Linked DNA regions of Homo sapiens: region 1 is reported to be linked to region 2. The links are microRNA targets in miRTarBase. Many come from high-throughput screens and were not tested one by one. Region 2 holds a microRNA gene; the other region holds the end of a gene's coding sequence.

Evidence for each region. Region 2 holds the annotated microRNA hsa-miR-5186 (AGAGAUUGGUAGAAAUCAGGU, at 1,436-1,456, shown strand). A microRNA usually pairs through its seed, bases 2 to 8, with sites in the 3' UTR of a target mRNA and lowers its output. Matches are read on the target gene's strand: a 7mer-m8 pairs with bases 2 to 8, a 7mer-A1 pairs with bases 2 to 7 and ends in A, and an 8mer does both.
Region 1: the mRNA of TRIM6 is a reported target of hsa-miR-5186. Seed matches in the 3' UTR shown: 7mer-m8 at 3,734-3,740.

Annotation. Positions count from the first base shown.
Region 1 is chr11:5,610,716-5,615,255 of GRCh38, reverse strand. It overlaps TRIM6 (tripartite motif containing 6), which reads right to left. Exons shown (of 8, transcript NM_001003818.3): 8 at 2,304-4,479. The coding sequence ends at 3,914. The region is part of intron 7 of TRIM6-TRIM34 (TRIM6-TRIM34 readthrough); the gene reads right to left. It also overlaps a transcript of TRIM5 not described here. Among named protein-coding and RNA genes, the nearest start is that of TRIM34, 12 kb to the left of the region's middle.
Region 2 is chr3:151,563,360-151,567,359 of GRCh38, reverse strand. MIR5186 (microRNA 5186) reads left to right here and starts at 1,365; the gene lies at 1,365-1,484. All of the region lies in intron 1 of LINC02066 (long intergenic non-protein coding RNA 2066), which reads right to left. It also overlaps a transcript of IGSF10 not described here.

The DNA.
Region 1 (4,540 bases), not on the chromosome of region 2:
CCCAGGACCACAGAATACACATTTCTTTCAAGTGCAAATGAAACATTTACCAATATAGATCATATCCTTTACCGTAAAACAAGTCTCAATACAATTAAAAAGGATTCAAGTCATATAAAGTCTGTATCTGGACCATTTAAAATTAAATTATAAACCAATAACAAAAAGATATATGAACATCCTCATAGATTTGGGAAAAAATATAATTTTAAATAATTCAATGGTCAAAGAAGAAATCAAAAGGGAAAATAGAATCTTGAATAGAATGGAGAATATATCAAAATTTGTGAGATGCATTTAAAGCCACAGAAGGAAATGTATAGCTCTAAGTGCTATATATACAAAAAAGAACCCCATCTGATTTATTGCCTTGATGGTGATGAGTTTCACAAGTCAAAATGTATCAAGTTATATACTTTATGAAATGTATTATATGTCAGTTATATTACAATAATAATGTTAAGACAGTCCTCTTCCCCTAAAAAGATTATTTTTAAGTTAGAATCAAACTTACATGCCAGCTCTAACAAGCACTCGCTTGTTGGGAAATATTAGGATAACTATACCACATGTCTAGAACTTTAGTGACAATACAGTTCTCTTTTACAAACTTTAGGCTATAGAATGGAATTAACATAGTTCCAGAAAAAAGCTGAGATCCTGAGTCCTCTATAATGGGAAAAAGGATTACTTAGGGTTCCAGGCAGTTTCCACCAAAATCTGAGTTTTCTTTTCCTTGAAATTTGATTGTACATGATTGCATACAGCTAGACATTTAAAAAATCTTTACAGTTAGGTTTAGCCCTATGGCTATTCTCATTAATAGAAAATGAGCAGATATTACGAATCCCATCTATGAACTAAGGATTTAAAAAGCACGTTTTCTCCCCTAAGTTTTCTTCACCTTTCTGCCAGCTTCATGCTGTTACCATTCTGGGGTACAGCAAGTGCCACAAGATGAAAGCAAGCTTGGTGCATGAATCCCACATGGAACAGTGCCACTCACCACCAGTTACATACACTCATGACCGATTGTTTTACATTAACAAGAAGTACATTTCTTTAGTATTTGATCCATTATGTATTTTTAGAGTTCTTTTTCATAGTAGTTGAGCCTACTCTATCACATGTCAAGAACAGAAGGCCTCTGTCAAGCCCCCATAACCCCTCAAGAAAAGGTCAGAGCTGTGAACTTACCCTAATAATTGTCCCCAAGTCTCAGATTGAGCAACCTTCCCCAGGTCTTACCTATAGAATTCCAGCAAGTACTTAGTTTGGCTTTCACTATTATCTAAAGTCATTCACTGGACAATACTTTGGGTTCTCCAAGTGAATTTACTTATAAAGAAGTAAATATCACAATAAAGCTGTTAAGAAAGTCCCTCTCCCTTCCAAAATCTTCTTTTTAAGTTAGCATCAAACTTAAATATCGGCTCTAGCAAGCACTCACATTTTGGGAAATATTAGGATAACTATACCACATCCCTAGAACTCTGGTGACAAAAAAGAAAAATTACTTATAAAGTAAATTCACTTGGAAAGTAAATTTACTTGTAAAATGAGTTTACAGAAGAGAGCTGGGCTAACTCTTTTGCCTAGAACTTACTTATTATATGGGAAAATAAGTGGGAAGGGGATAACTACTCCAGCAGATCTTTCTCTTTCCTGAACTTCCACCAGCCCCATAGGTCCCAGTCAGCTGGCCCTATCTCCTTTTATATCTCTTCCAATTGAAACGCAGACCAGGATAAGGAGTTTGCATCCAGCCTCTGGGCTTCCACAGATATGATCTCCCAAATATTATAAAACGGTGCCTTAGAACAAACCAGTAGTGAGCTTTTACTATAATCTGCACTACTTTATCTCACCATAGACACCCAAGCTGAGCCTTGATAACAAATCAGTGTTTCATCAAACCATGAAGGAGCTTCAAGTGCCCAACAGACTGAGGACTAACGGCAGGGGCCAGAGTCTGCAGAATCATTCTCTGGTCATGAGCCCTTTCTATGATCTTCCAAATTTCTACACTTCTAGATATGTTGAGATCTTCTTTTCTCTGTCATTACCTTCCATAAAAATGCCTCAGGGCAGCTGGGAAGGTGCAGGTTCTGTAGAGATAAACATATGTGCCTTGAAACCTCCTCTGTATCCTGAGTCCATAGGCTTTTACACTAGGGCTCACTTAGGGACAGAAATTTCATTATAGGATCTACTCCAGAGTTGTCCAATAGAAATACAATGTAAGCCACATATGTAATTTTAAGGTTTCTAGTATCCACATTAAAAAAGTAAAATGAAACAGGTAAAATGAATAACATACTTTATTTAATCCAATAGAGCCAACATATTATCATTGCAATACACAAAGGAAAAGTTATTAGTGAGATATTTTACATTATTTTTTGAAGTAGGTATTTGAAATCTGGTATATATTTTATACATTGAGCACATCTCAATTCAGACTAGGCATGTATGAAGTACTCAACAGACATTGGTGGCTCCTGGATACCATATGGGACAGCCAGTGCCATTCTCATCCTTGATATTTGTTTCTACCCTCACATGTACCTCTTAATTTCTTTTATAGCTGGTTCAAAAAACATATTGCACCTCTCTACCAAAGTCATAGCAGCTCACTCAACAGCTGTTTGTTCCTGCGCATAAAGAGAGTGTGGAAAAGCTGGAAGAAATCATCCTCTTCCTTTAAGTGCTTTATATTGTTCATATTTTCTCTTTGTGTTTTCTTTCTATTCTGAGAGAAAAATATGTATTGGATTGTTTTTCTCTCCCCACTACTCTTTTGTTTTTACTGCAATTAATTTGAAAGACGTATTTTTTTTTATTGTTCTATTGCTACTCTTAAATGTAGAGAGGAAGGCCAAAGGTTGTAGTGAAGATTGTAGTGAAGACTCTCTTCAATTTGAGTTTGAAGCTACCCAAATTATCATTATAATGGTTTGGTTTTAGAGCTCAATCCTATACATACTTATACAAAAACAAAGTAATTTATTTGCTTATTATTGCATTTTATAGAACCTGGCAAAGATATTACAAGAATGTAAAAATACAGGCCAATTTCTTTCATTAACATAGATGAGAACAAAATCTAAACAATACGTTATCAAAATAAATCCAGTATTGCATACAACAAATAATAATGGTGTATTTCAGCAAGTTGTGGTAACAAATTGAAGTAAATCAATGTACTAAGCCACATTAACAGAACAAAAATGATACACAATTGTCTCAATAATTTACAGAAAAGACATAGGTAGAATACGAGTTTTCATTTTATACAAAAACTTGTAGTAAATTAACAGATCAGAACTTCCTAAATTTGATCCCCTGCATCAATCAAAAAAAACCTGCATCAAATACTATGCTTAATGGCAAAATACTGAAAGCGCCCCCTATCCACCTCAAGACCTGTCATCAGTCAAAGATGCTTACTCTCACCACTGGGTGCATCCTAGTACTGAGTAACTGTTTAAAACGAAAGAACTGTCTGGGCGCGGCGGCTCACATCTGTAATCCCAGCACTTTGGGAGACCGAGGCGGGTGGATCACTTGCGGTCAGGAGTTCGAGATCAGCCTGGCCAACACGGTGAAACCCTATCTCTATAAAAATACAAAAATTAGTTGGGCATGGTGGTGGGTGCCTGTAATCCCAGCTACTTGGGATGCTGAGGCAGGAGGTTCGCTTGAACCCAGGAGGCAGAGGTTGCAGTGAGCCGAGATTGCGCCAGTGCACTCCAGCCTGGGCGACAGAGCGAGATTCCATCTCAAAAAAGATTCAAAAACCAAAAAACAACAAAAGAATTGAGAACACAGAAAAACAGAAGATCAGAAGGGAGAATCACATGCTGATAAGCCTCAGGGTACTTATCAGAAGTGGGTGGGAACAGAAGAATATTCAAGAGCTTGGACGACGCAGGGTCATAGGAATTACACAGTTGCAAGGATTAAAATATGGACAAAGAGTAGTGGGAAAGTAATATTTAGAGAAAGTGTAGATGGGGAAGCCATGGTTTGTGACATTATAAAAGGAGACAGTACCAGCCTCATAATCTAAGAAAACCCCAACACGGCGAGGGGGCACTGTCATGGAGAGAAGCAGGGAAGGGGAAGAATCCTCATAGGCCCTATATTCATGGTTATGCTGTAACCCAATCACCCAGTATCCACTCTGAGGCTGATACCTGGAGTAAGCACTGTGATTTTGAGCAAAATGGTTGAAAGAGAATGTAGGTCCCAGTGAATTGCTGCATACCCCCAGGATCCAGGCAGTCTTCTTGGCCACATCTACCTCCCAGTAATGCTTACCAGAGGAGAAGTGCTGGGAGCCCAGGACACTACAGTCATAATGCTTTTCCAGACAGGAAGGTCCAGATACTTTAGCTCCCACAAACCTCACTTGTCTCCGGTTTTTAGCCAGGACAAGATTTAAATTAGCTGTGTGTGGATTCAGGGTCACGTCAACTGTAGGAAAAGGTACAACATCAGCAGATGAGAACGGGGACATGGGTCTCGTTATGCTGAG
Region 2 (4,000 bases):
GAGGCAGAGTGACTAGGCTTCTCAATTTATTCATATGGATAATAAAGTGGCTCAAATAAAATGAATATTTATTATAAGGCCATAAAGCCATTTCACAAAAAATGAAGCAGAGGTGAATCTCCCAGGAATAGGAGCTGAGATCCAGGGAACCACTGAAGATAGAAGTTTCTCTCTCTTTGTCTCAACTGCATATAATCTTCCTCATCTATGATCATTGGCTACTGTCCACAGACAGGATCAAAATGCCCAGGGCCCAAGTCTACAGACCCATTTACTTCATAGGCCCACATCCATTTGACTAGAGACTCTGTGTCTCAGAAAATACATTTGCCTACAGGCTAGCCAACAGATTGACAGCCACCTGGATAGGTGTTGGTCCCTGGTCCAATCAGGGAAAAGGCTATGACATTAGACGAACTTGAACAGAGAGACTCATCTCTTCAGCAAGGGTGAGCATGGAGCTGACAGTGCTGTAGATAGGCCAGGCAGGCACCCTGAAACTACACCACCTCTGTTAGCTAAGAAATATAATTCTTCTTGACATTGAAGAAATTGCTAAAAATTGTGACAGGACTTGTGGCTGTTAACCTATTCAGAGGGAAAGATGGTAGTACCGAATGCTGCTCACTAAATATTCCCAGCTCTCTGCCCTCCGGCACATAGCACTCTATGGCTCCCAGTGGTTGGTGGAGGCCATGTAACTATTCTGGCCAATGAACTGAAAGCACAAACAATGTATGCCACTTTCCTGTTGAATGTTTATCTCTTGGCATGATTTCCTCTGAGCTCTCTTTGTCCCTGCCATGGTAGCATCCTCCTGATAGCGACTATTCTATCAGCCTGGGACCCAAAGCAGGGACAACACATGGGTTGTCAGAAGAACAAGAAGTCAACTTCCTTGTTAGCCACTGAGATTTGGAGTTTGTTATAGCATAACACAACCAATGCCAACTGGTTTAATAAATCCAAAAAGTTGTACTTATTAAGTAGAACCCAACAAATGCTATTAACTTTAATCATCCCTCAGTTCTGGGGAGAGCAGAGGAGACCTTATGCACTATCTTTTCTACTATTCATCTCAAATCTTTCCTAATCTATCATTTGTGGGGTAGGGTTTCACTTCCCTGCTTCCTAATTCATAAACTATCATGTTTATCATTATTTGGTCAGATTTCTGATTTTCTAGCTGATACCTCCCATTCTAATCCAAATTTGCTTTCTCCCCTCTGCCAGGGAGTTCTCATGACATGTAGCTAGGGCCTCACTTTGTGGCAATTTTATAAGCCTCTCATTAAACATTGGCACTGCCTCAGTTGCTTTCTGCACTGATTCTCCCAGGACTGGACCCCTGCCTACTCCCCAACTCAGCCAGCTTATGACTTGACCCTCTCACCTGATTTCTACCAACCTTTCCTCAGCTGATTTCTTTCTGGGGAGAGATTGGTAGAAATCAGGTGAGAGGGTCATGCCATAAGCTGGCTAACACTTTCATGCATTAATTAATACAGGAATCATAGCTATCATCTTAATCTATCACTCTCGTATCTATCTGATACTATGCATTAACGTTCTCAAAAGGCAAATTCCAACTAGAACAGTGTTTCTCAAATACCAATCAGTGGGCCAGAAGCAACAGAATTAGCTCAGTAACTCACTAGAACTCCAGGGTAGGTGCTTTAGTAGGTCTAAAAATATAAAGCAGAACATTTCTATGTTTGTTTGTTTTTATAACTTCCCCCAGGTGAGTCTGATGCACAAAAAAGTTTTGAACCCCTGGAACAGATCATTCTGTAGCTGCTTGAACTTCATAATTTGAACTATTTACCTCAACCTGGAGGCAGGCCTGGCTTTCTTGATCCCTTGTTTCAATTTTGACAATGTTCACCTTCTGCTCTGGCCAGGAGCTCCCAGGATGCCAGTAAACCAGACCTTACCACTCACCTCTGTATATAATGGCATCTCAAATTCCTTATTCACTTTTTGTACTTCTGGGTTACAAACATACTGGTGATTTTATATTATGATTTTTACAAATGGGTGAAATATGGTTTCTGGGCCTATAAAGTCAAGCACTAGATTCTAGATTCAAGGTCTCTCTACCAATTTGCCAAACCCCAGTGAAGTACTGCTTAAAGTTCTCAACTGGTCTTACCTCCTAACAATTGATAATTCACACAGCAATTGTCAAACCATCATATGAATTAACCAGTAAATCCCATTCTCTGCCAGTACTAGAGAGTTCTTTCAGAGTTTTTAGAGAGAAAGTATAGCATAATATAAGCCACAGATTCCAGAACCAGATTGCCTGACTGAAGTCCTAACTGCGCTGTTTATTAGCTGGTGATCTTGCACAAGTTACTTAGCTTGCCTCTGTCTCAGTTTTCTACTTCCTAGGCTTGTTACAAGAGTTAAAGGGACTGATACCTATAAGAAATCTTGTGCTTAGTATGTATTCAATGAACATTTAACCATTACCATGATTCTTACTTTTTAGTTATAGGCTATTTATTTACAACCACTTGTATATGAAACTTTCAACTGCACGCTTACCTTTGGGTACCTCTTGTAATTGATTCACCGGTAACTCACATGTCATTATGCTCTCTCATGCTAAAGCTCAGTCAGTAAGTAAATTGTTTCTTGGCCTCTAAGGACATGCATACCTCATTCAACTGCCGTAACCCAAATGCATGCAGATATCAAGCAAAGCAAACTGGTAAAAACTATGGCCAACTGGGGAACACAAACTTCATCTAAAAGGTCAGCCACTTCTCAGTCCAGCCTAATATTTCCATGCCTGAATGCAAACCCAATGCTTCCTTCTGTCTTTTCAAAAAGAAGCCAGAAATTTAGACTTTCATGGTCAATTTCCCAATTTGTAAATGTTGTCAAAGAAAAAAAGAAAGAAAGGAGGAAACAAAGAGAGGAAGGAAGGAAGGAAGGAAGGAAATAAATTCTTAAACGTCATGCTGGCCAAAACATATATGTAAGCCAATTTGATCCAAAGCTGCCAATTGGCTCCCTGTGCAATTAAAAAAAAAGTCAAATATAAAATTGAATGTGTGTACTGATGCAAAAAAGGAGTATGAAACCCGATAATATCAGCTTGGTCAAATTAAATATGCATGTAATGCCCTAAAAATATGTATTTAATACATTGTTTATTAGAACTAACATAAAGAAATTAGAAAAAATATAGCTATTTATGTTTTACTCCTAAAGCCAATGCAAGGTTTGTGGTAAAACCTGATGATGATCATCTTCTATGAAACAGAATATTCTTTTCACACTCATAACAGGAAGCGAGCAAAGATGTGTTTAGGAACATAAATGCTGGATCCAGACTGCCTGAATTTAGATCTTAGTTCTGCCTCTTGCTGGGTGAATACCCTCTGATGTCTTCATTTGGATTGCTTCCCCAACCTGTCTGTGCCTCAGTTTCCTCACCTGTGAAATGGATATAAGAACAGCACTTACCTCATAGGTAGTTCTCTGACAATTCAATGACTTAATTATTATAAAGCATTTAAAACAGTGCCTAGCATATAGTAAGCCCTATATAAATATTTGTTAAATAAATTATGGCTTTTGTTCAACCAAAATTTTACTTCCTAAATACTTATAAAATATCATAAGGCAGGCTAATATTTTTTTTAAACGCTGCAAATTCAACTACAGGAAACCAAATTCTCTCCAGTGCTTTAAACTAGAGCTAAATGTCCAAGTGAATATTACTGTTGTTGGTGACAACTCTCCAGCACTTGGATATAATTCTAACAGAAGGAAAAAATGCAAGTTGTTGTCAGGGACAATTGAGTATCTGATGGCTTGATGGCTTCTGAGGTCTCTTTTATATATCCATAAACGTGTTATTTGTCTTACTTGGCAGTGAAGCTCATGGAAAACTGAACTCTCTCCCTAGAGTCCTTAGCTTTTTATTAGATTCAGGATTTCCTGAAGCCCATTCACATACCTCAAATTAAGAAGGCCCAAGTTAGGA